Homo sapiens: one gene and its partner. The protein of the gene in region 1 binds, or shares a complex with, the protein of each later gene. Each region holds a gene or a part of one and is shown on either strand. Other genes may lie near its edges. A codon is read from its position in the direction of its gene.

Evidence for each region.
Region 2: the proteins of ZDHHC9 (region 1) and GOLGA7 are in contact, whole or in part, in a cryo-EM structure (PDB 8HF3), measured with the Homo sapiens proteins. Residues at the interface, in NP_001008223.1 of Homo sapiens: Phe78, Ala81, Arg85, Ile94, Pro95, Leu98, Asp100, Glu101, Phe104, Ile105, Phe129, Gln130, Ile131, Asn132, Ile146, Pro149, Pro150, Arg182, Tyr183, Leu186, Tyr274, Lys281, Cys284, Glu285, Leu287, Cys288, Gly289, Pro290, Leu291, Pro292; in NP_001002296.1 of Homo sapiens: Lys11 (codon at 5,947), Phe13 (codon at 5,941), Gln15 (codon at 5,935), Tyr18 (codon at 5,926), Ser19 (codon at 5,923), Ser20 (codon at 5,920), Gly21 (codon at 5,917), Thr22 (codon at 5,914), Ala57, Glu58, Leu60, Ser64, Tyr65, Gly68, Cys72, Ala75, Tyr76, Thr77, Phe79, Leu80, Tyr86, Glu87, Leu90, Ile116, Arg118, Gly119, Arg121, Val122.

Annotation. Positions count from the first base shown.
Region 1 is NC_000023.11:129,837,033-129,852,299, forward strand, and holds the start of ZDHHC9 (palmitoyltransferase ZDHHC9), read right to left. Parts: upstream 6,855-15,267; 5' UTR 6,664-6,854; intron 6,568-6,663; exon of another isoform or gene 6,295-6,567; 5' UTR 6,227-6,294; intron 5,049-6,226; 5' UTR 4,914-5,048; coding exon 4,747-4,913; intron 1-4,746. UniProt on the Homo sapiens protein: Palmitoyltransferase that catalyzes the addition of palmitate onto various protein substrates, such as ADRB2, GSDMD, HRAS, NRAS and CGAS. The ZDHHC9-GOLGA7 complex is a palmitoyltransferase specific for HRAS and NRAS.
Region 2 is NC_000008.11:41,480,893-41,496,831, reverse strand, and holds the start of GOLGA7 (golgin subfamily A member 7), read right to left. Parts: upstream 6,251-15,939; 5' UTR 5,978-6,250; coding exon 5,867-5,977; intron 1-5,866. UniProt on the Homo sapiens protein: May be involved in protein transport from Golgi to cell surface. The ZDHHC9-GOLGA7 complex is a palmitoyltransferase specific for HRAS and NRAS.

The DNA of each region.
Region 1 (15,267 bases):
TATAGAGACGTTGGCTGGTCAACTCATCTTGATAAAGGAAACTCACTTCTGTGGGCCTGGTTTCCTCACCCCACACAAGGAGGGAGATAGTCTCCAAAGCCCTTTCCAGATCTACCATCCTATGATTCTGTGGGTCAAGATTGTTAAATTTTAAGTACATCTAGAATGTTTTAATTCAGCAACACTTATTGGCCATCTACTCTATGTAAGGCATGGTAGAGAGCACTGTGGGGGCTACACAGCCATTGAACATAGTCTCTGACCTTGAAAGAGACTAGCTGCGGGGGACAACAACAGTGAGAAGTGTAATCACCATATAGCTCCAAACTATAAGAAATGTCATGTGATTATCTGTTGAATGAGCGGTGTGTACAATTAGCCCAATGAATGCAGAAATTACTGGAAAGTTTTCATGAAGAAAGACTCAAGAAAGAATTTGAAAGAGGGGTAGAATTTGGATAGGCTAGAAAAGTATTGTTTGTATTGATTACTATTGATTACTAAGCAGTGTTACAAAGCTGTTTTCAGTTCATCCAATTCAATGACTCTTCTGCCAATATATACATCAAAAGCTCTAATGGGGACCAACCTGACAGAACCTGGTCTGACAGTGCCTTGATAAGATTTCCTTCATATACAGAGGACACAGTGAGACCATAAGCACTGATTATAGCAGCAAACTGCTTCTGCTTCAGGGGTCAAGAGTCTCATAGTCATTCTTGCCACAAGAGAAGTCTGAGGACCTTGATCCCACTAGTGGCCAGGTCAGAAAGCTAAAAGAGAAAGCTGGAAGCCAATTCCAGGAGACAGTGCACTTGTTCCTTTCTCCAGGATCACACTTTATCAGGAAGTTGAATTTGACTGAATACCACGATAGCCTTTCAGTAGCTGGATGTCTCCTAGGTTGTCAGTGGCATTCTGCTACAGTGTCCTAACACTTCAGGCCAAGCTGGTAGCTATGTGTTCATCGCACAAGCTGGATAGAGCTTAAGCAGAAAGAACTGAAAATTGTTCATGTGCTCAAAGCTGAAACTAGCAATACACACTCACATTTCTTAAATACCTCACCCTAAGAATTAATTAGAAAATCCTTTTTCTTTAAGCATTATACCATTTTTCACTCTGCTTTTAAACTTAAATACGTTTACCATGAATACAATTATATTTAAATATAGCAACCTACTGGTAATCTATAATCTCCTTTTGTGTGTATTTGAGTCTTCCAGACAGACACAGAGTTATACAGAATTTCAGGTTCTTGGAGTTGCAAGAGGCTTAGTGAATATTTGGCCAAATTTCTACTCGGTGACAGCGGCCCGAGAGAGACCCCCCGGCTTCTTCAGAAACACCTCTAACAGGCCGGGCGCAGTGGCTCATGCCTGTAATCCCAGCACTTGGGGAGGCTGAGGCAGGTGGATAACTTGAGGTCAGGAGTTCGAGACAAGCCTGGCCAACATGGTGAAACCCTGTCTCTACTGAAAATACAAAAATTATTTGTATTTGGCAGGTGTCTGTAATCCCAGCTACTCGGGAGGCTGAGGCAGGAGAAGTGCTTGAACCCGGGAGGCAGAGGTTGCAAAAGCAGAGATCATGCCACTGCACTCCAGCCTGGGTGATGGGGCAAGGCCCTGTCTCAAAAAATAAATAAAAAATAAAAAATAATTAAAAAAAAAAAGAAACACTCTAACAATACAGAGCTAACTGGCCCCAGGATGGACAACTTTTTTTGTTTTATGTATTCAATCTACTATGTGTCCACTGAAAATTACAGGTCACTCATTTGAAAAGTCTTCTAGAAGATATGTAAAGGCATAATCCAAAAATAAAAGGACATCTGCCAGCACTGCTAACATTATGCGTTTTTCATTAAGGGGCACCCACATGCCTGACCAGACTTCTCAAGCCATCTGGCTGGCCCAGAGCTGTGCTGCAGGCAGCTATAAATCAACTCACACTTGTTCCTAAGCACCTGCTGCAAGCAGGACCCTGCTACTAAAATGCAGCTCCAGATGTGCCTCAAGATTTGGACTATCTTCCCACAAGGTAAAAATACAGCAGCCAGAGGATGTGGAGTCTCTACTCCTAGACAATGTAAGAATGAAAATAGATCACCATTTGTCTATTCAGACACCCTCACCTGCCTGAAGGCAGGGGGCTAGATCAACTGATTTCCTGAGGCCTCACTAAGTTCTTTTTTTTTTTTTTTTTTAAGACAGAGTCTCACTCTGTCATCCAGGCTAAGATCTCAGCTCACTGCAACCTCCGCCTCCCAGGTGCAAGGGATTCTCCTGCCTCAGCCTTCCGAGTAGCTGGGACTACAGGCGCACAACAGCCACACGGGGCTAATTTTTGTATTTTTAGTAGAGACGGGGGTTTTACCATGTTGGCCAGGCTGGTCTCGAACTCCTGACCTCAAGTGATCTGCCTGCCTCGGCCTCCCCAAGTGCTGGGATTACAGGCATGAGCCACTGCGCTAAGTCCTAATACTAACAAAGCAGCCCACATTCTGCTCCCCAAACCCTGCCCCCACTATGTGGTGGACAGGAAATTATAGATGCCAAAGAAAAAGGCCGACCAGAAGGAGATTTCATTCCTCAGAGGCATGCTGGTGTACCTTGTACAACCTGTCACTGGCTAGGCACAAGGCAGCCACCACCTAAAGTGTCTATGTGTCTGTATATGACAGACACACACACACATACACAAGCACGCACATCCACACATGTACAAAGTATTCATCACCAGGGTCCTCTCCTCTGTGGTCACATTTCCACCTCCCCCCTCCACTCCTCTGCTAACACATTTACTTCCTTCTCCCCTCTTCTTCCCACTACTCCCTCCTCCAGCCCTATCTTCAAAAATATTTAGTCTTTCACACAGACAGCTGGTACTCAAGTAAGTTTTACAAATAACCTCACCCTTCAAAATGCAAGAAATAACCTGGGGCGGGGGGAAGTCATCATGGTAGAAAACTCAACCTGCCTCTGTCAAATGGTAACTTGGCTAATTAGAAGCTTCATCCCACCAGCGGTTTTCTTCAGAGGCCTGCAGGGGCCTCAGTGGAACAGATTCCAGTCAGATTCTTCTGCTGGCTCCCAGATACAAAAGGGGACAAATGGCAATACCTCCAAATTTCAAGTACCCCTGGCCAGTCAAACCAGAGGTTTCCTGGGCCCAGAACTACCAACTAACTCAAAGCCTGGGAACAAGGCTCATCTCTGTTTGGAATAGTTGTAATAAAAATTTAACCTGGAGGTGGGGGTGGGGACAAAAAGAGAAAAAGAGAGGAAGAATGATAAAGAACAGATGTCAGCTTTGCACTTCCAAGAAGAAGCAGGACAGGAATGAGGCAAGGAATACTTGGAGAGAAGGGTGAGGAGAAGGAAAAACAATTTTTAATGCTAGGGGCTTATGCCTGCCTGACTACACATGCTCACTGGTACCACACACAAGCACGTGCGTGCACATATGCACACACACACACTCATTCAGGAAACTCAAACTGGAAAGCAAATAAGAAGCCTTCAGCAACCTGCCTGACTTCACTAAACACTTCACAAAGTCAGCAGTAGCGGCGGCAGCAGCAAAAGGACCTTTAACAAAGAGTTCCTCTGACCTTACTTTCCCAGCCCCGTTATAAACTGGATCTCCCTCCCCCTGCTGTTACTCAAGCCAGCTGCAACCACCCAAAAGTCTGGCAAAGCAGCCCAAAAATCACTCTGGGTGCACTGGGAAAGCCTGAAGCCCTCACAGAAGGACAAAAATGAGCCCCAAGGGACCAGAGCTCATTTTACTTCCCCACTAGGCTGGCCAAGGTGCCCCCTCCTACCTCCCATGGACACACCCCAGCATAAGCCCTCCATTTCCAGGTCACCCATGTACATACACCATAGCACGCTCACCTCAGGTGTGGCTTACAGTCCACACACACACCTCTTGGCTCTCAAAGGCCTCCTCACAGTAATCCCAAAACAATTAGCAATGCTCCCATCCCTAGAGTGTAGAGCATTCTCAGCACACCCAGGAGACACGCCACAGTGCCCTAGAATCCAGCCGGCCACCTCCCCTAGAGACGAGACCTACACAGACTTCAAACAGTGGCTCGAGTACGAGGTATTACACCACAGAAAAAAAATCACTCCAAGGCTGGTACCAGACATACACAGAATATAGAGCTGTTTACGTTGAGTGATTTTGAGGGAAAGAGCAACTCACTTCTAATAAGCACGTATGTGCCACGCACACAACTAGTATGTGGTCCAGCTGAGGCTGGAACTAATCTGTAGGTTCCCAACTCAGTTGGCTTTTCACTGTACCAGCTAGCTGAGAGCTGAGCCTTAAGGAAACAGGACCCAGAATAACAAAATAGGTGAGGATTGCTGAGTAATGTAACAATGAGGGGTGCCCTCAGGTTTGTGTGCAGGGGAGGCCATCTGTCATTTAGCTTCTAAGGAGACCACTAAAAGGGAGAGGTGAGTAATTAAGACAAACTTTCTTATTTCCCAAGTCTATCAAGGACAGCCCCAAATCAGTACTACAAAATTGGTATCAAAGGTATTGGTCTTTTTAGGAAGTACATACTCTGTGATGACCACGAAGCAATGAATTCAGCTGGCATCTCTACAGACATCGCTCAAGAGGACGTTAAAGTCATCCAAGGACCAGCCCCAAACTCCCCAGAAAGCAGGTTCTTCCCCTGGACCCAAAGTAACCATAATCAGGTAACTCTACTCAACCGAAACTCACTCAAAGGCGAAGAAGAGTGTACATGTCCCCAGGATGAGGAAAAGGGTCAGGTAGAAAATGCCCTTTTGCCGGGCCATCATGACGCGGCCATCACAGCAAAAGGTGTTCCTGCCTGGGAGTTTCTCCCATTTCCGTGTCACCTTCTTTCTCACCACCATCACAGACATGATTGGAATTCCTGCTCCAAAATGGGTTTTGCGATTACACGAGAGAAGAAACAGAGGCTGAGCCCAGCTTTGAAATCACGTTGCCTGCTATTCCTGCCGCTGGGTCAAACATCATCAAAAGTCCAATTGCTAGCCCTAAGAAAAAGCAGAAAAAGAAAAAAAAATGAGGCAATAATAAGAAAATACAGTTCAACCCTCCTTTCCCAGAGACAGAAAGTTGAAAACTGACTGAAGGGGTGGGGACGGGGAAGTGGGAAAAGTTTATTTCCAATTCGTGTTTGTTCTCTAAAAGAAGGTATGATAAAAGGTTCTCAAAAAAGGAAAGGGGCTAGTATTTCTTCTTAAATAAGCCTCTATGCTTCCAATCTAATGCTGATGATCTGATCATCACAGAACCTTGGAACTAGAGAGGATTTTATAGGTGATCGTGCCAATTATTAATACTTTGTTTTGTAAATGAGTAAACTGAGGACCAGAGAGAGGAAATAACTTATCCAGGACCACACAGCAGCAATGCTGATACTGCTAACTTCCAGTCAAGGGCATGTTCCACTATGCCACAGTGTTCTTTCAACATCATTAAAAGGACTCTAAAAATAATAGTAGAGTTTCTGTCCTTATAAAACCTCCCTCCCTTCCTCCACTTCACCTTCTTTCTTCAATTAGCCACTCGAATATGAATCACAGCAGGGAACAAGTCACCCTCTGGCAGGGCCAGGAGGTTCTGGACGCTCTGTGCACATACGTGCATTGTATTTACACAAAACAGATTTCCCCTCATCAAACCCTCTGCAACTTCCTGAGTCCGGGAAATGAAACAATCTGGCTGGTCTAGCCTAACATTTGTGAGAATCTTAATGAAACCACATCAGAGACCTGTAGGTGAAAGGCTGACTTAAGCAGGAGAGATTCTGGAATGGTTGGTGACTGCTGATGGCTGGTTGGGGGGTGGGGAATGGCAGCAGCTAAGAAAAGTCACAAGGGCGCTTTCTGGGACATGTCCTAAGTACCATCTCTACTCAGCATCCTGAATTCCCAGGCCCAGAGTTTCTCAGCCTCTGCTACCCTTCTCCTCCGCTCAGGTGTGGTGTTGTGGCCTCTATTTACCGACACCACATGCCCCACGCTGGCAGGACTGAGGCGGAAGCCTGCAGCCCGACGGACGGAGGGAGAAACAGCCAACTCGCGGGCTGGAGAGGGCAAAGGTCCAAAAACAGCCTAGGAGCGGAGCAGGGAAACGAGAAGGTAGAAGGTTCGGGGAAGGGGAGGGGGGCCCAGAGGTGCAGAGAACCCGTCCTTTGTGTAAAACTAACCTGGAAGACAATCTCCTCCCGATAAACCGGCCCAGCGGGAGAAGGGAGACCAGGAAGGGGGAGCCGGCCTGGAAGAACAAAGATCAAAATCCGTCGGGAAGCAGCGACCGGCTCCCCAGCGGGGGGCCGGAGGCCGGAGGCCGGAGTCCGGGGCCGAGCCGCGGGCGCGGCCTCTCGAGGCCCGCCCTGACTCCGCCACGCCGCGGACCACCGCCCCAGGCAGGTTGGGACGCGCGCCACATCCACACGCACACGCAGCCACACGCTCGTACACACTCACACACGCCCCGCCACGTGTAGTCACCCCGGGCCAGGGGCTCGGCGGCTGCCGAGTTGAGAAGGGCGGTGCCGACGTCCCCGCCTCCAGGCGCCGCGGAAGGGGAGGCAGCCCACCCTGCAGCCGAGCCCAGGAGACCCCCGCCCCCACCCCTCGTTACCTGAACCACGGAGACCCAACTCGGCCGGCAGCTGACGGCAGGAAACGGACCGTCCCAGGGAATCACGTCGGCAGCCAAAGGTGGCAGCGACTTGTCCTCCCCGGGCCGGGAGGCTGTCTCCTCCTGACAAGGGGCCCCAGTGGTCGGGGCCCTAAACCAGCTGTGGCAACCGCCCACCACTGGCCAAATGGAACGCTCCTCACGTCACCAGGTCGCTCCAGTAGTTGCTCGCCCTCTATTGGCCGATCGGCCTCGGCGCCTCCGCCCCGGCCGCCCCTATCCCGAACTGCCATTGGTTTTGCCTAACGCCACTCGACGATGCCTCCGCCCACTCCTCCACCCATCTCCCTGCTGCATGCCCACCTGCCAAGCCACTGCCAGCCTCTCTTTGGGGTCTGAGCGCCAGTATGTGAAGTGTTGCCTTCTATTAATATAGTTACGCAGAGACGGAGGTTAAGGGTAGTGCCGATGGGACAGCAAAGGGTGGAACCAGCCTACACACACGCGCGCGCGCGCGCACACACACACACGCGCGCGCACACACACACACAGTGAGATGCTGAAGCAACACTAGCTCACAGATCCGGGTGCTCACCCCAAACTAGGTCTGCCATGGGCCTCTCCAGCCCTGCTTGCATTTTAAAATCAACCGCAACTTGAGATTTTACTCTTTATCGGCATAAAAACAAGTCATCTGCCTCCCAAGTCTCATTCAGTAGCCAGGGACCCCATATCTGTCCCAGTCACCCTAGCCTGCATCTCTAAGTCTTTCAAATCAAAACACACAAACAAGCATAAAAAGCATGTTGTAAAGGATAAATGTCCCCAAGAACGTATTATCATTTTGCAGCACCTAAAACAACTAATTGACATTAATGGAGTTAAAGAAACTCCACTGAGGACATAAATTCTTCCAGGTAGGTAATGAAGTAAAGATTGCCAAAAAGGTTGTAAATTTTTATTCGGTTTGGAAAGCTTATGATGATTAAGGGGAGAATCCAAGGCAGAATTCCCACCCACCAACCAGATTGATTTTTTCCTTCTGCCACCCAGCTCTGCATTACTGCCACCATGAGCCACTGCTACTGATCCGAGTGAGTTGCATGCATTAAAAGTTTGAGATTGGGCTGGGCGCGGTGGCTCACGCCTGTAATCCCAGCACTTTGGGAGGCCGAGGCAGGTGGATCACCTGAGGTCAGGAGTTCAAGACCAGCCTGGCCAACATGGCAAAACCCGTCTCTACTAGAAAGACAAAAGTTAGCGGGGAGCGGTGGGACTCGCCTGTAGTCCCAGCTACCAGGGAGGCTGAGGCAGGAGGATCACTTGAACCCAGGAGGTGAAGGTTGCAGTGAGCCAAGATCATGCCACTGCACTCCAGCCTGGGCGACAGAGAGAGACCCTGTCTTAAAAAAAAAAAAAAAAAAGTTTGAGATTGAAGGGGGGAAACAATTGAGAACCACAGTATTATACTATAGGGTGACTTTAAAAGACACTAGGTCTGTTTTCACCAGTATGGCTCCTGCCTTCCAAATATAAGAGGAAATATGAGAAAAGGTTGAAGGTGGCATCTCCTTTCCAAGTGTAAGAGGAGATAAGAGAAAAGGTTGAAGATTGGAGGAGAATGCCTACATTACCAGCCTAGGTTTTCCTAAGCGTGATAAAAATTTCAAAGTTTTAGAGATTTGGTATTTGGAATTAGTACAGAAGAGACTGCCAAAGCTCTTCCTAAGGCAGTTGTATGTTAGTTGAAGGACCACATACATGGTCAAGAACTATTTTTCCTTTACAGTATATGTGTCCCACACAATATGAAACAAAAAGCTACATAATAATTACATTTGACACTTTCATGGCACCCTTCAAAATTCTTAAAGGATTTAAAAAACACTAGGTAATTCTGAGATGTGTTGTAATTAACTTGCAAAGGAAGGTTTGTCTTTATAAAGCTTCCATTGTTCCTTAGCACTCATGCTGATTATGATCAACAGTTTATTCCTCATGAAGTGTACGATCAGTATCATTGCCTCCAATTCTCCCGCTTTGAATTCTGGAGGGTGCTGGTATTGCACACACTTGGTATGGGAGGGAGAAGAACTTCCCTAAACCTCATCAGCCCTGTGGATTTCCAAGCCTATGTATATCAGATGCCCTTAGGAATAGTATGGTCACCCCAGCTGCCATCCTTCTGACTATGGAGCAGTGAAAAATAAGCCTCTGTAGCACTCAAACATATTTTGTCCATAGCTCAGGTGCAGGTGAAGCCTGAGGAGTCCTGGAATCGATGTGTCATGGTGACACATTCCTGAGCTCTGTCCCTCCCTGCTCTGGGTCACATTCCCTCTCGGACTAAGTGGCTATGTGAGTCAGGCTTGTTTTATTACAATCTGTTATTATTTATTCTCAACACTCAAAGAAAAATAAGGAAAATTTATGTGGACAAACATCCCATAGTACTTCCTCCTATGTAGTTACATCATTTTATATAATCCTTAAAGTCTTAATACACACACACAACTAAATTGTGACTATAAACTGAGACTGTTTTTTCCTATTCTTTTCTCTTCTCTTTTCAACAGACTTCCCACTTTTTACATCCAAGTCAGTGTTGGCTCTTTTGAAAAGAGGTTATAGGCCGGGCACAGTGGCTCACGTCTGTAATCCCAGCACTATGGGAGGCCAAGGCAGGCAGATCACTTGAGGACAGGAGTTTGAGACCAGCCTGGCCAACATGGTGAAACCCTATCTCTAGCCAGGCATGGTGGCAGGTGCCTGTAATCCCAGCTACTCAGGAGGCTGAGCATGAGAATCACTTGAATCTGGGAGGCGGAGGTTGCAATGAGCCCAGATCGCTCCACTGCACTCCAGCCTGGACGACAGAGCGAGATTCCATCTAAGAGAGAGAGAGAGAGAGAGAGAGGGAGAGAAAGAAAGAAAGAAAGAAAGAGAGAGAAGAAAAGGGGTTATAGTCATGTGATGAGCACTAGAAACACCACAAAAATCAAGGTATAGCCTTCCAGTTTATAAGACAGCTCCTTGTGTTATCATGTATGTTCTGGAGTATTTGTTTAAAAATACCTGTCTCCACATTTATTCTTCATGTGTGTGTGTTTGTGTGTGTGTGTGTGTGTGTGTAGGCGTGTGTAGGTGTAGGTGTAATGTGCTGTTTGATCCTGAGTGCCACCACTGGGTTGAAGCTTTCCTGTTAGTGTTGCTTCAAAGACTCTTCTGTAACCACCCGGAGACCCATTCAGTACTACATCCAGGAGCAGACATAAAGCATCAGCCCCCATCCTGCTTTTGAGCTCATGATAGCTCCTTTATTCTCTATTTTCTGTAGCCTCAAACTTGTCATGTCACTTTGCCCTCCTCCCCACACACACAGCCCTTTCCACCCCACCTCTCTGACTTGCACATCTCTTTCTGCTTTCTGGCTATAAATGCATGTGTGTGTAGAACGAATTGATGAACAAAAGAATGAACCACGGAATGCCCTACCCACGCATGATGAGCTAGTATTCTTAAGCAACATCTGTTTCTCTGAGGCCTGGGCTGCTATCACTGACATAGAAGATCCAGGATGGTAGGTAGCTCAGAAAGCACATAAGCCTTATGGCCAGACAGGCCTCGGTTCAAATCCTGGCTCTGCTACGTAATAGCTTGTATAACCTGTGGCAAGTAATTTATCCTTTCTGAGACTATTTCTTCATCTGTAAAATAAAGCTAATACCTATATCATGGAGTTATAAAGGGAATTGTGTGCTAACTGTCTGGCATGGAAGAGAGACACAGTCAATGCTGTATGTTATAATGACATCTCCATTACTGCCCCCTCCCATCTCCCTCCCTTAGCCATCCTGCTGACTGGGGTAGAGAGGTAGAAAAAATGAGACCCATTCTTCACTGTATAGAGTCCTTGTCATCCATGTACCACCACGTTTTCATAACCTCTAAATTCATCACTGAATTGAATCCTTATCTGACTGGGTTTCCCAGCCCCCTACCCCACCTGGGACTGGGGAAAGCCTGGATAGTAATCTTGTTCTAGTAGAATGGCTGATCCTTAGCCTCCTCTTCTCAAGTAAATCATTGACATTCCTGCCACATTATCTGTTTCAACAGGCAAAAGGTAAATGGGATTGCTTTCACTGAGCACCTCCTATGTTCACAGCCCTGTGCTGAGATTGTTGGCTTCTCTTGGGAACTAAGCAGCACCTTAAAGATGTCCTCGCATGGCCAGGCGCGGTGGCTCACGCTTGTAATCCCAGAACTTTGGGGGGCTGAGGCGGGTGGATCACCTGAGGTCAGCAGTTCAAGACCAGCCTGACCAACACGGCGAAACCCCGACTCTAATAAAAACACAAAAATTGGCTGGGCTTGGTGGCAGGTGCCTATAATCCCAGCTACTTGGGAGGCTGAGGCACAACAATCGCTTCCACCCGGGAGACAAAGGTTGCAGTGGGCTGAGATTGCGCCACTGCACTCCAGCCTGGGCGACAGAGCAAGACTCCGTCTCAAAAACAAACAAAAAAGATACTTTTGCATGAAAGCCAAACATGCAGAAAGCCCCCCAAAAAACAGCCTGGGATGGCCAGGAAAGTGTTCATCACAATGCAAGTGAACTGCCCAAACGCAGGTCTCTGTTTCTGCCTCAGATGCCTGGCTGCTCCCACTGGTTCCCAATTTGACTTCATCTCTGGACTGTGGATTTCTGACTCTGCCTGGGATGGCTTTAGGTCCTATGCTTGAACCCTCAACAGTAGCCCTAAGACAATCCTCTCATTAAAAGAGAATCATAACAGCAATAGAAATCATTTATTGGGGACCTCCTCTGAGCCAGGGATTGTAGTAGGTGCTTTATACATTTAGATTCTCAGATTACGGTCTAAACTTGATGTGCAAGTGACAGCATCTGATACTGACCCGGCACAGCCCTAGTCTCTGACTCTGCCCAGCTCTCTCATTCCAAGAGCTCACCTCAATCACTGTGCAGCCCAAAAATAGAACCAGTTTATCAATCAATCATGAAGTATGTATTAAGCAACAGCCATAGTTTGCTCAGCCTGTACTAGGCAATATGGGAAATACCAAGGAAGTATATGACATGATCCCAGCCTCCAAGGAACTTAAAATATTCTAGGGGCAAAAAGACTAGCACCTATGAAGTCATTAAAGATAAATACAAAACAGTGCAGAGTCAAATTCTCAACTATGCATAGCAGAGTCTCCAACTTCTTAAGGAGATCTTGCCTCAAAGGGTTGTAGCTTCTCGAATACCATTGGTAGAGGAGTAAACTGGTAAAAATCTTTCAGCAGGGCTATTTGGCGGTATCTTTTAACATTTTTGCATTACACAACCACTGACCCAACAATCCTACTTCTATCTAGAAATACTCGCACAAATGTTCAAAGATATATGTTCAAAGATGTTCACTACACACATTGCAATTGTTTGTGAATGTGCATAATTGTGTATGTGTAATTGCAAAAATTAGCAAACAAAAAAGGCCATTAACTATTGGAAATCTACATAGTACAGTACTATGCAACTATTAAAAATAATGGTATATAACATTCATACAGAAAAGAGCAGACCACTGCCTTCCTATATGTGGGAATATTTCAATGGAAATTTTACATTAAAATATTTTCTTGAGGCCGGGCACACTAGCTCACGCCTGTAATCCCAGCACTTTGGGAGGCCGAGGCGCGTGGATTGCTTGGGGCCGGGAGTTTGAGACCAGCCTGGCCAACATGGTGAAACCCCGTCTCTACTAAAAATACAAAAATTAGCCAGGTGTGGTGGTGCGCACCTGTAGTCCCAGCTACTCGGGAGGCTGAGGCAGGGGAATCACTTGAATCTAGGAGGCGGAGGTTGCAGTGAGCCGAGATTGCGCCACTGCACTCCAGCCTGGTGACAGAGTGAGACTCCGTCTCAGAAAAAATAAAAAATAAAAAAAAATTTTTAAAAAAGCAGCTCTGGCTCTCCCTCTCCCTCTCCCTCTCCCCCCTCTCCCTCTCCCTCTCCCCCCTCTCCCTCTCCCTCTCCCCCCTCTCTCTCTCCCTCTCCCTCCTCTCCCTCTCCCTCTCCCCACGGTCTCCCTCTCCCTCTCTTTCCACCGTCTCCCACTGATGCCGAGCCAAAGCTGGACTGTACTGCTGCCATCTCGGCGCACTGCAGCCTCCCTGCCTGATTCTCCTGCCTCAGCCTGCCGAGTGCCTGCGATTGCAGGCGCGCGCCACCACGCCTGACTGGTTTTCGTATTTTTTTGGTGGAGACGGGGTTTCGCTGTGTTGGCCGGGCTGGTCTCCAGCTCCTAACCGCGAGTGATCCGCCAGCCTCGGCCTCCCGAGGTGCTGGGATTGCAGACGGAGTCTGGTTCACTCAGTGCTCAATGGTGCCCAGGCTGGAGTGCAGTGGCATGATCTCGGCTCGCTACAACCTCCACCTCCCAGCCGCCTGCCTTGGCCTCCCAAAGTGCCGAGATTGCAGCCTCTGCCCGGCCGCCACCCCGTCTGGGAAGTGAGGAGCGTCTCTGCCTGGACGCCCATCGTCTGGGACGTGAGGAGCCCCTCTGCCTGGCTACCCAGTCTGGAAAGTGAGGAGCGTCTCTGCCCGGCCGCCATCCCATCCAGGAAGTGAGGAGCGCCTCTCCCCGGCCGCCATCCCATCTAGGAAGTGAGGAGCGTCTCTGCCTGGCTGCCCATCGTCTGAGATGTGGGGAGCGCCTCTGCCCCGCCGCCCCGTCTGGGATGTGAGGAGCGCCTCTACCCAGCCGCAACCCTGTCTGGGAGGTGAGGAGCGTCTCTGCCCAGCCGCCCCGTCTGAGAAGTGAGGAGACCCTCCGCCTGGCAACGGCCCCATATGAGAAGTGAGGAGCCCCTCCGCCCGGCAGCCACCCCATCTGGGAAGTGAGGAGCGTCTCTGCCCGGCAGCCACCCCATCCGGGAGGGAGGTGGGGGTCAGCCCCCGCCAGGCCAGCCGCCCCGTCCGGGAGGGAGGTGGGGAGGGTCAGCCCCCCGCCCGGCCAGCCGCCCCATCCGGGAGGTGAGGGGCGCCTCTGCCCGGCTGCCCCTACTGGGAAGTGAGGAGCCCCTCTGCCCGGCCAGCCGCCCCGTCTGGGAAGGAGGTGGGGGGGTCAGCCCCCCGCCCGGCCAGCCGCCCCATCCGGGAGGGAGGTGGGGGTGTGAGCCCCCCGCCCGGCCAGCAGCCCCGTCCGGGAGGGAGGTGGGGGAGTCAGCCCCCTGCCCGGCCAGCCGCCCCGTCCGGGAGGTGAGGGGCGCCTCTGCCCAGCCGCCCCTACTGGGAAGTGAGCAGCCCCTCTGCCCGGCCAGCCGCCCCGTCCAGGAGGGAGATGGGGGGGTCAGCCCCCCGCCCGGCCAGCCGCCCCGTCCGGGAGGGAGGTGGGGGGTTCAGCCCCCCCGCCCGGCCAGCCGCCCCGTCCGGGAGGGAGGTGGGGGGGTCAGCCCCCCGCCCGGCCAGCCGCCCTGTCCGGGAGGGAGGTGGGGGGTTCAGCCCCCCCGCCCGGCCAGCCGCCCCTTCCGGGAGGGAGGTGGGGGTGTGAGCCCCCCGCCCGGCCAGCCGCCCCGTCCGGGAGGGAGGTGGGGGGGGTCAGCCCCCCACCCGGCCAGCCGCCCCGCCCGGGAGGGAGGTGGGGGGGTCAGCCCCCCACCCGGCCAGCCGCCCGGTCTGGGAGGTGAGGGGCGCCTCTGCCCGGCCGCCCCTACTGGGAAGTGAGGAGCCCCTCTGCCCAGCCACCACCCCGTCTGGGAGGTGTACCCAACAGCTCATTGAGAACGGGCCATGATGACAGTGGCGGTTTTGTGGAATAGAAAGGAGGTAAAGGCGGGGAAAGGATTGAGAAATCGGATGGTTGCCATGTCTGTGTAGAAAGAGGTAGACACGGGAGACTTTTCATTTTGTTCTGTACTAAGAAAAATTCTTCTGCCTTGTGATCCTGTTGATCGGTGACCTTACCCCCAACCCTGTGCTCTCTGAAACATGTGCTGTGTCCACTCAGGGTTAAATGGATTAAGGGTGGTGCAAGATGTGCTTTGTTAAACAGATGCTTGAAGGCAGCATGCTCGTTAAGAGTCATCACCACTCCCTAATCTCAAGTACCCAGGGACACAAACACTGCGGAAGGCCGCAGGGTCCTCTGCATAGGAAAACCAGAGACCTTTGTTCACTTGTTTATCTGCTGACCCTCCCTCCACTATTGTCCTATGACCCTGCCAAATCCCCCTCTGTGAGAAACACCCAAGAATGATCAATAAAAATAAATAAATAAATAAATAAATAAATAAATAAATAAATAAAAGAAAAAAAGAAAAAAAAAAGAAGCTCTGGATGCATATAGGCAGGAGCAGAAAGGCAAGAAGGGGGCCTCAGAGCAAAAGAAGAAGGACAAAGACAAAAAAACAGACTCGGAAGAGCAAGACAAGAGCAGAGATGAGAACAATGATGAAGATGAAGAAAGGCTGGAAGAAGAACAGAACGAAGAGGAAGAAGTAGACAACTGAATAGGGCAGGAGACTGTGGCATCTTGGAAGGTACCACTTGAGATGAGATGTGCTACATGTTTCTGTGAAGCTTTTTCATGCTGG
Region 2 (15,939 bases), on another chromosome or scaffold:
CGTCTCAAAAAAAAAAAAAAAAAAAAAGCAATAAACTGACAGGGTACTATCATATAGGCAAATATAAAGCCTAGTGGGGACACAAAAGCAAGGAGAAATTCCCTTTATCTGGGAAGGGCAGGTAATCTTAAATTGAGTAACTAAAGACTGGAATTTACTAGGCAAAAAAAAAAAAAATGGCATTTTAGCAGAAGGATCAAAAGGCGTAGGTTCTATATTCTGTTTACTCAGCCTATCTCTTTTGAAGCAATTATCTTGTTACTAAATAAGGTAAAATTTGTTAAGGTAAAATCTCAAGCTAATAAACAATTTTTCACATTAAGTCATTCTTATTACCTCTTTCTATTTGGTGACACCATTATCTTAAATTTACACTAATACTACCACAGGTTGAGCATCCCTGATCTTAAATTCTGAAGTCAGAAAGGCTCCAAAATCTGAAACTTTTGAGCACTGACATGATACCACAAGTGGGAAATTCCAAACCCGACCTCATGTGAGGGGTCACAGTCAAAATGCAGGCGCACAACACATAGTTTATTCAGTGTCCCCAAGAGAAAAAGACCCTTCCAGCCCCCATCAGCTGCCATGTATCTTTTCCATGCACAGCCAGATTCTCCCATGCAAGCGTGCTCACAAAGGGTGATAAGATGGTTCAGTGTACACACACTTTGTCTCATAAAGTCATTTAAAATATTGTATAAAATTACCTTCAGGTTATATGTATAAGGTGGATATAAAACATAATGAATTTCGTGTTTAGACTTGGATCCCATTCCCAAGATATCTCATTAGTATAAACAAATATTTCAAAATCTAAAAAAACCCCAAAAACTGAAATACTTCTGGTTCCACATATTTCACATAAGAAAGAACCTGTACTGTCATCCATTGTTTCACTCAATCATCTGCTTTTACTTTATTCTTCCAATATTACTTTACTGTCTTCTAATAGTACTTTGTATAACAGATTTCAAATTTTGCTACTTCATCCCAGGACTTTCAAGGCCCATTAGGAGAGCAATCATCCAATACTGCCATTCTTATCTGTCTGCACTCTAGGCCTTCTCTCGCATAAGGATTCCCTTATTTCTAAAATTAATAACTACTTACGTATGAATTCTCTCTTTTATGAAGTCCTTATTTAAAAGACTTTTTTGTTTGGCTTTTTTTTTTTCTCCTTTCCTGTCTCTGTGAACCTATTAAATCTTTCTTTATAATAGAAACCGACTCAGAAAAAAAAAAATCAGGCTGGCGTGGTGGCTCATTCCTGTAATCCCAGCACTTGGGAAGTTGAGCTGGGTGGATCACTTGAGCTCAGGAGTTTGAGACCAGCCTGGGCAACATGGTGAAACTCTGTCTCTACTAAAAATGCAAAAATTAGCCAGGCGTGGTGGTGCATGCCTATAGTCCTAGCTACTCAGGAGGCTGAGGTGGGAGGATTGCTGGAGCCTGGGAAGTGGAGGTTGCAGTGAACTGAGATCTCACCACTGCACTCCAGTCTGGGTGACAGAGTGAGACCCTGTCTCAAAAAAAGAAAGAAAGAAAAAAAACCCTCAACATACAGTATGAGCCCTACTATTCACTATTCCCAAGAATGTAATCTTTTTTTTTTTTTTTTTTTTTTTTGAGACAGAGTCTCACTCTGTCACCCTGGCTGGAGTGCAGTGGCGCAATCTTGGCTCACTGTAACCTCTGGTCCCAGGATCAAGTGATTCTCGTGTCTCAGCCTCCCGAGTAGCTGGGATTACAGGCGTGCACCACCATTCCCTACTAATTTTTGTATTTTTAGTAGAGACGAGGTTTTGCCATGTTGCCAGGCTGGTCTCAGGCTCCTAGCCTCATGTGATCCACCCCCCTGGCCTCCCAAAGAGCCACCTGCACCTGGCCTCAAGAACATAATCTTTTAAAGTGTAAAACAATTCATGACCATCCTTAAGCTATGACAACTCTTTAAGTTAGAAGCAGTTGTAGTCATTGTTTTGTCCGTTGTGTGGAAAATGTGAGGAGTCAATGGGCTAGTGGCATGCATGAATTTAATGCAAACTTTAAAGTGGTGTTGGCTCTACCCATTTTTCAAAAGGAGTTACTTTAAATTTCCAGGAATATTAGAGATTTGGACAAAGGCTAGGTGGGTCAAGACGGCCTTTAAACGCAGGGGCAGTGTTTCTTCACTGAGCTACCCCTTGTAGATGTGGTGTCAAGGCTGGTCATCTGGGAAACTGTGAGTTCTCATTCACGAAAACAGACTGAGGAGAGCTCAGCAAACAAAAATGGTAAGCTGTTACGTTCACCTAATTATGCCTACGTTAATGCCTTCAGTTTGTCCACCGATAAGTCTACAAAAGTCTAAATAATTCCAATCACATTTGATGTGCCTATGTTATAAGTCATTGAATTATTTATATTTCTTTACAATACAATTCAAAACCATGGGATTCAACCCAGAAACATCTTATTTCTTTCATATCAGAATTACTGTTTATCCCGGAAACCCTAATTATTATTATTTTTTAAGTTTAGTGACAGAGTATCGCTATGTTGCCCAGACTGGTCTTGAACTCCTGGCCCCAAGGGATACTCCTACCTCAACCCCCAGAGCAGCTGGGATTACTTGGGTGCAAACCACCATGCCCAGCCAGAAACACTTAATTCTTATGCGTTATTCCGAGATTACAATGCCCTATAGGTTAGAGGTAAATCATACGTCAGTTAAACAAACAAACAAAAAAAGGTTAATAAAAAAAGAAAAAGAAAGGATAAATGGTTAAAGAAAAGTAAATGCCAACAAGTTTTTGAAAGGTTATTTTAAAAAAGGGAAATAAAGGGTAAAAATCACAGAAGGCATCAATAAAGGCAAACGACAAACTTCACAAGAAAGGGCTCAAGAGAACAAATGTTGGCATTTGTATCTTACTACCTTTAGGCTATGAATAACAGTGGCCAGTGTTCTCCCTTAGGTTCCTGGACACTGATACAGGAGCTCTATCAAAATTTAGATATATGAGAAGTCACAGCCAAATAAAATTTGGACCCACAAACATCAAAAATCAGAATGGAAAGAGAAATCAGGCTTATTTTCCCAGAATTACTGTGAACTACACAGTAGAAAGCATGGTGAAGCATGCAGTGATCACGTATCAAGGGTGGCAGGTCAAAGGTAATTACTAACCAGATGGGGAGACATATTTTTAAAGGGAAAAAATGCCTCAATTACAGTTCACTCATTCTTCTACCCAGACCAAGGGTAACTAAGATATCTGTATTTTAAGGCTAATGAGAATAAAGTTTCCTTTAAGGAATTGTTCTGGCAACAAATCGCTTAAGCATCAAAGTATTACATTCTAAAAGGCAGCAGAGAAAATGAACTTGTTAACAGACAGAACCTATCCTACTCCCAAATTAAAGGGCACAAATGTGTGTGTATTTTTAAAAAATGCTTTAAAATAATACAAAACACTTGCATATTAGTCACTTTCTCTATTATGTTGCCAAGTGTGATGTTCTCACAAAAGGAAAATCAGCTCCAATAGCAGAGCAATCAGTAAAATTTCTAGGGTAAGTAGTAGAGAAACAGAAACCTTTCAATTTTTCATCAAAGCAAGGAAAGTTTAAACCTGTAATTTAAATTTAATCTCAACACACATACACAGACAATCAAAGCTTTTCTAGTGGTTTAAAGCATAAGCTAGTGTTTTAACCCAAACATTTAAAAAGAAAAAAGAAATTCAAAGGCACAATTGAAGAGTGCCATGTAACATTCCATATAGTACTCAGTACCACAAGCAGTTCTGGGCTATACAGAGTCAAAGAGGTAAAAGGACTCCAGAATTTAGAAACATCAATTTCCTGACAAGAATCAGTGGAGCACAGTAACTACATTGTGCTTTTGCACTTAGATTACAAAATAAAGGCTCTGCCACACACAGAGTGGAAGGCTAATGTCTGATTCTGTGTATACACATTTAGCTCAAATATATGAGGTGTAAGTGTTGCTTTAAAACCTTAAAGCAAAGGAATCTTTAATGTCCAAATAATTGTGGTAAAAAAAGAATACTTTATATTCTGATTTTGAAGTACATAAATTGTATGTCATAGTTTCCGTAAGAGGCTTAAAAATAAAACATTTGATTGATTCCATGTATATCTTTTTATTTGATTTATTTTTTGAGACAAGAGTCTTGCTCTGTCGCCCAGGCTGGAGTACAATGGCATGATCTCGGCTCACTGCAACCTCCGCCTCCCAGGTTCAAGAAATTCTTCTACTTCAGCCTCCTGAGTAGCGGGGATTACAGGTGCCCGCCACCATGCCTGACTAATTTTTGTATTTTTAGTAGAGATGGGGTTTCACCATGTTGGCCAAGCTGGTCTTGAATTCCCGACCTCAAGTGATGCACCCGCCACGGCCTCCCAGAGTGCTGGGATTACAGGCGTGAGCCACCGGGCCCAGCCAGATTCCATGTCAATCTTAACATGTAAAACACATCAATTGTGATGTTAAATTATTTTAAAACAACATTCAGTAGCTCTACCCAACTGGCCACTTGCTGAATTTCTACCTCTTCAAACCACTGTAGATAGTTCCACCTATTGTCACGCTCAGTTAACTCATAACATAGTTGACAACATACTGCAGCATTTAAATGGCATTTCAGAAACAAGTCACCTCACCATCTTTTAAAGGCATATTTGATCCATTTGCAATTCAAGAAACATATTTGGGCCATGAAGCTGCCCATGGTTATGTCAAACTGAAGGAAACTATAATGGATCATTGTTGATTTCCCAACCATGGAAATCGGGCAGTGCAACCCACCTCACTGCAAACTGACTGTAAATAACTGCTACACATTTCTCTACACAGACTCATCCACACCCACTTATCCCATGACCAGCATCTCTCAGTCCCACACCCAAGGAATGCCTAATCACCTCTCAGGCCCTCGTCCTCCCTGTCACAGAGGAGAGAGCCACAAAACCTGCTTCCAGCTAACCAGAAATTGATCCCTGAACGGGAAACACAATCTACATAACATGGGTCAAGACCAAAAGAATCTTTGGTTGAATGTACATATGTGGGCACACAAAAACACAGGCAGGCACGCACACACTCCATTACCTCTACAACAAGATACAATGATTTTTTTTTTTTTTTTAAAGTTTTGCTAGGTCTGAAGGGGAAGCAAATCCCATTCTTCCATTTTTGCCTGCAATGTTGCCCAAAGGACCTATATCCTGATGACCATTTTGATATGCAAGACAAAACAGGTGGCTCCCAGTGAATGTGACAAGTTTAAGGCCTTGTTCTGAGACATTTTCCTGTCCAGGCCTATCTAACGCCCGACGTCTTTAAGGTTCCAAGAAAGCCTGAACGCACCGCCTGGCCATGCACCTAATAAACCCTTTCAGCCAAACAGTGCGGCCAGCACAGAGGCAGCAAACACCAGTCACGAGAATGATGATGATTTATCTTGCGCGGAGAGGTAGGAGGATATAGTTTACAACCTGGTGACTGAGACGACCTGGAGCCTCAGGAATTGGCTCCTCATCGCTGCCGACAATAACCCGGGGTGGGGATTTGGGGGAGTGCAGCAGGGGAACACTGCTGGATCCAGATTCCCGGCACCGGGCAACAAAGTTCCATAAGGTCGTCAACCCCGGCGATCGGCCTATATTATTCTTCCTGCTCCAAACACCTGTCTTGCTTAGTGGCTCTCTTCTTACACGTTTGGCCAAGGCCCCTTCTGTGCCTGGACCTCCCCAGAACTGCGGGACCCTCAAAGGCCCGGTTGTCGCCCACACCCTTCCCGTCCCCGGTGAGTCTCTCTCCCTCGCCAGAGCAGGCGTGGGGAGCCAGGTTGCGTACCCGGTTCTCCAGCTCCGCAGGGAACTTGGTCTGGAACTGGCAGCGTGTGCCACTGCTGTAGTCTCGCTGAATGAACACCTTTCCGGACACCGGCGCCTGCTGCGGCCTCATGGCGAGGACAGGACACCCCGCGCTGCGGGGTCGGGGGAACACCAACCGCGAGTCAGAGCCCCGGCCTGGACCCGGGACTCTGACCCGCCAGCCCCTCGCCCCCACCCGCCGCCGAAAACAGCCCAAGGCCTCCTCTGCCCCGCTCCCCTTCACCCATGCTGTCACCGCGGGCCTTAGCTGCCGCCTGGCCCAGGCCCCGCGCCCCCCACAACCCGGTTCGGCCCGGGAAACACAAACCCGCCTCCTCTGCCCTCCAGCTGCTGTCGCACCGCCTTCGCCGTCACTTACGTCCTGCCGCAAAAAGCCTCTTCCCCGCCCCTCAGCTCGGCCTCCTACCTCAGGTCTGGGACCCACCCTCTCCTCCGGCCGTAAAGCCACCCTGCCGAAGCTGCGCGCTGTGGGGCTGGGCCGAGGAAGGGAAATGATGTGGGCGGGGCCAGGGCCGACCCCGCCTTCCGCCCGCGCGGGGATTGTTTCCGGAAGGAGAGAGGCGGGGCGAGCTGTGGGGCTGCGGCCGGGGCGAGCTGTGGGGCTGCGGCCGGCGCGAGCGCGCGGGGGTGTGAGGGGCGGAGTTTCCCGGCTGTGTCACTTCCCTAGTGATTGTGGCAGGTGGTTCCCGATCACTGATTGTGAGGGGTCATTTTCGTTCTTGATTGGACGTCGCAGCTTACGTGTGGGTTATGCCACCCAACTCATACACAAAACAAAAAACAAAACATAAAGAAAAAACAACACCCCCTCCCCAAACCCTCAAACACAAACTGCTCATTGTGTTCAGAAGTAGAAAGCAGGCTCCAAGGATGGATCCATTTGGTCCCTAGACTCTTGAGAAAGGGTCAGGAAGTGAGGACGAAGAACCTGCCTGGGCCCCAGCGTTGGGCGCCCCTGCCCCGACTCTTCTTTGGGGGCGGCGTTCCTCTCACCCCCCATTTCCACCCAGCTCCCATCCACATCCCTCAGGTGACCAAGGGGACAAGTGGTTCCGCCCTCGTTGCCCACTGGCCCTTACTTGACTCAGCATTTCTTTGCAAGGCAGCCAAAGAAACCCCACCTTACCCTTGTCTCCTGCTAATACAACCTGTTAGTACCACTGTCTTTTATATATTTAATATAGTTTAAATATCCTGCCTTTTAAATATGAAAAATTCTCTTACTGTATTTTAAAAACAGCTTTTTCGAGATATAAATGGCATACAATAAACCACACATTTAAAGCAGTGGATTTGATAACTTTGGACATATGAATACACCCATAAACCACTGTCACAATCAAGATAGTAAAGCTCCATTGCCCTGAAAAGGTTCCTCCAGCTCCTGTGTAATCTCTCCCTCCTGCCTCTCCCAGACCCCATTTCCCAGGCACTGATCCACCTTCTGTCACTCAACATTAGTTTCATTTCCTTGAATTTTATATAAATTGAATCATATAGTGTGTACCCCCTTTTTTTGCCTGGCTTCTTTCACATAGACTATTTTGAAGTCCATCTGTTGTTGTGTTATCAATAATTCATTTATTTTTGATGCTGGATAGCTATTCCATTGTATGGCCATCCCACAGTTTGTTTATCCATTCATCTGTTGATGGACATTTGGATTGCTTCCAGTTTTGGGATGTTACAAATAAAGCTGCTATGGACATTCATTTGCAAGTCTTTGCATAGGTGTGTAGACCTTAATGCTTTCATTTCTCTTGGGTACATACCTAGGAGTAGAATGGCTAGATTGTACGGTAAAAACACGTTTAACTTTTTGGCAGACTGACAAACTGTTTTCCAAAGTGGTGACACCATTTTGCATTCCCACCAGAGTTCCAGTTGCTCCACATCTTTGCCAAGACTTGGGTAGTAATATCTTCTGCAGCTATAATTTTCATTTTTCCATGACTAATTATTTTGAACATATTTTCCTGTACTTATTTGCCATCCATGTATCTTCTCTGGTGAAGTGTCTATTTAAAACTTTTGCCCATTTTTTTGTTTGTATTTTATTTTCCTGTTGTTGAGGGGTTTTTTGTTTTATTTTGTTTTGATTTACATCTTTATTGGCTGGGCTTAAGGTCAGTTTTAAATTTTTAAGGCACTTTAATTCTTGGATTTTTGTATGTTTAAAGATGTTTTCCTGAGGCCTTTATACTTGCGTGAGAACTTGGCCGGGCTGTTTTTGAGTTTTGAGTTCTTTATACATTCTGGAGAAAAATCCTTTATCAGATATGTGATTTGCATGCATTTTTCACAGTCTGTGATTTGTCTTTTTACTCTCTTAACACGTTAGGGGTTTGAGGGGATTAGGGTGTGGACCTCTTGGGGAGGGCATTTCTGCCTCCCATAGGTATAGAGTGAAACTCTTCCCTCCCCCCGTATGATTATGCAGTTGTTATTCAGTTGTTTACGTACCATTTGTTGAAAAGACTCTCATTTCTTCACTGAATTGCCTTTGTATCTCTGTTGAAAATCAGTGGGGGCCGGGCGCGGTGGCTCACGCCTGTAATCCCAGCACTTTGAGAGGCCGAGGCGGGCGGATCACGAGGTCAGGAGATCGAGATCATTCTGGCTAACACGGTGAAACCCCGTGTCTACTAAAAATACAAAAAATGAGCCGGGCGCCGTGGCGGGCGCCTATAAGTCCCAGCTACTCGAGAGGCTGAGGCAGGAGAATGGGGTGAACTCGGGAGGCGGAGCTTGCAGTGAGCGGAGATAGTGCCACTGCACTCCGGCCTGGGCTAAAGAGCGAGACTCTGTCTCAAAAAAAAAAAAAAAAAAAAAAAGAAAAAGAAAATCAGTGGTGTGTGTGTGTGTGTGTGTGTCTGTCTGTCTGTCCCTCTGTCTGCCTGTTTTGGACTTTCTATTCCGTTTCATGATCTGATCCTGTTTTGAATTAAATGTCTACTAGTGTTTGTCTCCGAAGTTGATGCTTCCTTACTAACTCAGTAAGATCTCCTAGGAGCTGGTTTTCTACATATTTGTTACTAGGGGTTGAGAACACCCTTAAACAGGTAAAACAGTCTCTACCCTCAAAATTTCAGTCTAATGGAGTGAACGAAGAAAACAATTTTCATACATTGTATATTTGGAGTATTTTCCTGCAGCCCTTGGCCACTGAGACTAGGTGGTAAAACAGACTATTATTATTATTTTTTGAGATGGATCTCACTCTGTCGCCCAGGCTGGAGTTCAGTGGCACGATCTCGGCTCACCACAACCTCCGCCTCCTGGGTTCAAGCCATTCTCCTGCCTCAGCCTCCCGAGTAGCTGGAATTACAGGTGCGTGCCACCACACCCAGCTAATTTTTGTATTTTTTTGCGTAGAGACGGGGTTTCACCGTGTTGTCTAGGCTGGTCTTGAACTCCTGACCTCGTGATCCACCCGCCTCGGCCTCCCAAAGTGCTGGGATTACAGGCGTGAGCCACTGCACCCAGCAAACAGATTATTTTTGAATGAGGAAATTTGAGGGCAAATATAACCCAAGGAAAACCCTCTTCATGTTTGGGAAGAGGATCGATCCCAGGTGAAAGAGGAATCAAAGGACGATGAGCTGTATTGTTATCGTCTTCCCTCATCCCTAAACACACTCATGTGTCTAGATTCTAGTTTTGCCATTAAAAGTAAAACAGCAATTACTTTTGTACCAACCAAATAGCTTCTGGCAGTTACCAGCAATCCTTGGAATTCCTTGGCTTATGACAGCATAACTGCAATTTCTGCCTCCATCTTCCCATGGCCTTCTTCCCTGTATCTTCTCTGTGTCTTGAAATATTTCTCTCCTTATAAAGAGCACTATTCATTGGCTTTAGGGCCCACCTAATCCTGTCTGACCATCTTAACCTGATTACATCTGTAAAGACCCTATTTGCAAATAAGGATCTGGGGTTCCCGACTGACATGGATTTTGGGGGACACTATTAAATCTAGTACATCTACCTTGTAGAGGGTGTCAATGTGATATTGTATGTAAAACACTTAGAATGTGTTTGGCACATAACAAATACTGTATGGTACTCTGTTTTTTTTTTAAATTATTACATCATTAGTGACATAGTCAAATGATTTGCTAACATTAACATCATGATAGCAGCAGCTACTATTCATTGGGCTATTAGTGTTAAGGAACTAGGTTGAGCGGTTTATATGCATTACCTCATATAATCTCTACTATATCTATTAATCTAGTAACCCTGGCCAAACAATGATAATACTATATAATACAGATATGATCTATAATCTATGAGCTCACTAGCCCTACACTATTATTTTATTCCTTTCTATGTTTTCAACAATCCTCTGATATTTTAAGGAGCTGAAGTCAAGCTATTAGTCTACAGTATTGACAATTCATTCTTCCTTTTTGAATTTTGAGTCCCTTGTCTATGTTTAGCTTCTTTGAAGCCTACATATTATCTATTTTATTCCTCTGTCCATAATAGATTCTCATGAAATGCTTTGAAAATGAATTCATTCAACAAATATTTGTCGACACTCATAAGGGCTGGTGATGAAAGGATAAAAAAAGTGTGGATTATTTATGTCCTGTGGAAATTCACATTCTTATGGGTGGCCAGGAGGGTGGGAGGAGGGAGATTATAACAGGTTAAAAAACTTTGGGGAAGGGGAGGGGTTTTAACAGAAGGAGAGATAATTGGGCATTCCAGCCTCTCTGTCCAGGGAATGATAAGTATTCATACCTGAAATAAGTAGGATCTGAAGTCTGCTTGGGTGAGGGTCAGGTGGGAGTAGGGATGAGAGATCTTTAATAGAGAAGAGAGATGGTGATAAAAATCTTATATCCTTTTACACACCCCTCTATCGTTTCTTCTCCAAGGTGAATGAACCAGCTTCCTTTATCTTCGATGGTAGGATCTCTATTCCAAAGTTTCTGTCTTTTTGTATGACTCTCAGAACCTTCTGGTGTTTCAAACTAGATACTCTGATAAGAGCGTTAACCTGTGCTGAATATTATCAGTGAAATCCTTTTGTCCCTCCATTTTCAACTCTGTTTTTTTTTCTCTATTGGAACAAAGCTAGCTTTTCAATGCGGGGTCCCATTCTGTATCACCAACTCATGTTCAACTTTTGACCCATCCTGGATCATTTTCGGCCCTGCTTACAAACAGCTTCCCACGCTGCAGATGGCGTCTTCTCTTCAGCTACGATCTCTCCTGGGCTTTGTTCTATTTGTGTCCAACCACTTCCTCCCAGGTCCTTCATAAAGATCTCAATTGGATTGAAAGACGTCCTTATACTAAAGAAATTTTAAACTGTCCTCCTTGGCCATGCTCACGTTGCTCACCGAAGCCATCCCCGTTTCGTCTAACATCGTTTTTTTTGTAGTAGTTGTTTTCTTCTAAAGCTTTGAGGCATGACTGGGGTGGGGGCAGATCAAATCCATTTTCCTCGTTTTCAGTTCTAGTGTCTACCATGCACTGGTACAATGGGCAGAACTCCAAGGATCATTGTCTCTTTGTTTTCATGCATTTGCTGGTAATTTCAAGTCAGCTTCCGTTTTATAAGCTTGTATGTCTTTATTGCATTTTGAGAGAACATTATTGGCATACCTGAATTGACAGCATCTGTTCCTTCCATTTAAATTTCACCATCTAAAACAACGTGTGTCCCAGTTTCAGGAAACAGGCTGAACAGATGCCAGACAGTTGTACTGAATGCTCTCTCCATGAAAGAGCTGCTCTTGCTTACATTTTTGTTTATTTCATTGTGAGGGAGAAGAGCAGATTGAATGATGTCATTAATAAGGGTCCTTTGCCTTTATTGTTTAGGATCCTATTGAAGACCTCTCATATCTGAAGTGGCTGGTGGATAAGAGGGTTTGGAGATTTCAGACTCTTTTCACCAGCACAGTGTAGAATTGCAGAGCTGGAAGCAAGGGTGGTGTCACGGGTGTGTGACTTGTATAGTTGCATAGGGATCTGCACTGAGAAGAGCTCTCTTCTTGGCTTAATGTCCTGCTGTCATCATCTTGAAATTCGTAATACTTTCTGAACATGGGAGTCTGCACTTTAATTTTGCACTGGGCCTCAAAAATCATATAGCTAGTTGTGGATGGAAGAAATATGAGGGCATCTAGTGGGAACACACCATCATTATCTGGGATAGATGATTAACTGTCCATATCTTCTGTGGAACCTGATTTGACGGCAGTTTTGACAAAAGTAAAAAGAAAAACAGGCTGGGTGCGGTGGCTCACGCCTGTAATCCCAGCACTTTGGGGGGCCGAGGCAAGCAGATCACGAAGTCAGGAGTCGGAGACCAGCCTGGCCAACATGGTGAAACCTCGTCTCTACTAAAAATACAAAAATTAGCCCGAGGTAGTGGCATGCCCCTGTAATCCCAGCTACTCGGGAGGCTGAGGCAGGAGAATCACTTGAAACCAGAAGGTGGAAGTTGCAGTGAGCTGAGATCGCGCCACTACACTCCAGCCTGGGCAACAAGAGTGGAACTCGGTCTCAAAAAAAAAAAAAAAAAAAAAAGAAAAGAAAAGAAAAAAAAGACCTCCCTCCTTAGAATTGTACCTCCCTTGAGTTGGAGGGGCCTGGTAAACATCTGGCCCAGGTGTCCTTCTTAGAATCTGGCACTATTTCAACTATCTTTATGACCTCTAGGGATGAAAACTTCACAATTCCCCCTGTGGGCTCTTCCATGTGCACTGCATGTTATGTCTAATTTTCCCATAAAGGACAAATACTCACTAACACAAAGGATTAATTTCTACGGTTGCTTTATAGTAATATGCATTCTAGGGCATTGGAAAAATGGGAAATGAGGCTGTCTGTAAAATCCCCTCCACCCACTGTGGGATAGCATTGTTGAAAAAGGGATGCATACTTTAATCTTTCCTTTTGAGAGAGCAAAATTCCTGTCCTTTTGACATTTGTTACTGGAGATACATTTATAGAGGGAATGAGTTGGACAACTTGAGGCTAGAAAAGAATCAAGATGAGGAATGACTGGAGTAAAGGATCCCAAAAAAGACAAAAGAGAAGATGGGAGTGTAGAGGATGTTGTTTTGAGAAAGGCACATTTGTGGCTGGAGACTCAGAACCCTGCTTAGTATGTTTTAGAAGCCTCTCTGCTTTCCACACTATCCATTCACAAATGTTATTGAATCCTGCTTTGCAGAAAGCACTCCGTGTTCAACTCAACCTCTGTACCCATCACACCTTTTATGGCTGAGTGGTGCTGAACCAAGTGGTATCCATATCGTTTGTAATATGTTTTTCATTCTTTGATATGTCAACCTGAAATAATGGAAAGGATCAGAATCCAGTTTTAAAGAGCGTATTCAAGTGAAAAGTTGGGAATAGCCATCCGGGAAAACCAGACTCCAGAGAAATGGAGCGAGTGCTCTGAAGTTAAAAGTTAAGGTCTTGCTTATACCGACAGAAAACAAATAAATTTGGGAGGATCATAACATTTTCTATACAAGGCTGGTTTATAATCAAATTATAACAATTTGATTAGTTTGTTTTCTATATGGCTTGTTTTCATTTCCTCTCCAGTTTAAAAGAATATATTTAACATTCCATCTTAAGACAATATGATAAAGTCTTTGTGTGAGAGAGGTAAGAGGTAATTTATTTATTTACTTATTTTTTGACTTTTTTATTATTATACTTTAAGTTCTAGGGTACATGTGCACAATGTGCAGGTTTGTTACATATGTATACATGTGCCATGTTGGTGTGCTGCACCCATTAACTCGTCGTTTACATTAGGTATATCTCCTAATGCTATCCCTCCCCACTCCCCCCACTCCATAACAGGCCCCAGTGTGTGATGTTCCCCACCCTGTGTCTAAGTGTTCTCATTGTACAATTCCCACCTATGAGTGAGAACATGCGGTGTTTGGTTTTATGTCCTTGTGATAGTTTGCTGAGAATGATGGTTTCCAGCTTCATCTATGTCCCTACAAAGGACCTGAACTCATTCTTTTTTAGGGCTGCATAGTATTCCATGGTGTATATATGCCACATTTGCTTAATCCAATCTATCATTGCTGGACATTTGGGTTGGTTCCAAGTCTTTGCTATTGTGAATAGTGCCACAATAAACATACGTATGCATGTGTCTTTATAGCAGCATGATTTATAATCCTTTGGGTATATACCCAGTAATGGGATGGCTGGGTCAAATGGTATTTCTAGTTCTAGATCCTTGAGGAATCGCCACAATGTCTTCCACGATGATTGAACTAGTTTACAGTCCCACCAACAGTGTAAAAGTGTTCCTGTTTCTCCACATCCTTTCCAGCACCTGTTGTTTCCTGACTTTTTAATGATTGCCATTCTAAATGATGTGAGATGGTATCTCATTGTGGTTTTGATTTGCATTTCTCTGATGGCCAGTGATGATGAGCATTTTTTCATGTGTCTGTTGGCTGCATAAATGTCTTCTTTTGAGAAGTGTCTGTTCGTATCCTTTGCCCACTTTTGGATGGGGCTGTTTGATTTTTTCTTGTAAATTTGTTTAAGTTCTTTGTAGATTCTGGATATTAGCCCTTTGTCAGATGGGTAGATTGCAAAAATTTTCTCCCATTCTGTAGGTTGCCTGTTCACTCTGATGGTAGTTTCTTTTGCTGTGCAGAAGCTCTTTAGTTTACTTAGATACCATTTGTCGATTTTGGCTTTTGTTGCCATTGCTTTTGGTGTGTTAGTCATGAAGTCCTTGCCCATGCCTATGTCCCGAATGGTATTGTCTAGGTTTTCTTCTAGGGTTTTTATGGTTTTAGGTCTAACATTTAAGTCTTTAATCCATCTTGAATTAATTTTTGTATAAGGTGTAAGGAAGGGATCCAGTTTCAGCTTTCTACATATTGCTAGCCAATTTTCCCAGCACCATTTATTAAATAGGGAATCCTTTCCCCATTTCTTGTTTTTGTCAGTTTTGTCAAAGATCAGATGGTTGTAGATGTGTGGTATTATTTCTGAGGGCTCTGTTCTGTTCCATTGGTCTATATCTCTGTTTTGGTACCAGTACCATGCTGTTTTGGTTACCTTGTAACCAAACTATACTACAAGGCTGTTTTGTAGCCTTGTAGTATAGTTTGAAGTCAGGTAGTGTGATGCCTCCAGCTTTGTTATTTTTGCTTAGGATTGTCTTGGCAATGTGGGCTCTTTTTTTTGATTCCATATGAACTTTAAAGTAGTTTTTTCCAATTCTGTGAAGAAAGTCATTGGTAGCTTGATGGGGATGGCATTGAATCCATAAATTACCTTCAGCAGTATGGTCATTTTCACAATATTGATTCTTCCTATCCATGAGCATGGCCTGTTCTTCCATTTGTGTCCTCTTTTATTTTGTTGAGCAGTGGTTTGTAGTTCTCCTTGAAGAGGTCCTTCACATCTCTTGTAAGTTGGATTCCTAGGTACTTAATTCTCTTTGAAGCAATTGTGAATGGGAGTTCACTCATGATTTGGCTCTCTGTTTGTCTGTTATTGGTGTATAGGAATGCTTGTGATTTTTGCACATTGATTTTGTATCCTGAGACTTTGCTGAAGTTGCTTATCAGCTTAAGGAGATTTTGGGCTGAGACAATGGGGTTTTCTAGATATACAATCATGTCATCTGCAAACAGGGACAATTTGACTTCCTCTTTTCCTAATTGAATATCCTTTATTTCTTTCTCCTGCCTGATTTCCCTGGTCAGAACTTCCAACACTACGTTGAATAGGAGTGGTGAGAGAGCGCATCCCTGTCTTGTGCCAGTTTTCAAAGGGAATGCTTCCAGTTTTTGCCCATTCAGTATGATATTGGCTGTGGGCTTGTCATAAATAGCTCTTAGTATTTTGAGATACGTCCCATCAGTACCTAGTTTATTGAGAGTTTTTAGCATGAAGGGCTGTTGAATTTTGTTGAAGGCCTTTTCTGCATCTGTTGAGATAATCATGTGGTTTTTGTCTTTGGTTCTGTTTGTATGCTGGATTACGTTTATTGATTTGCGTATGTTGAACCAG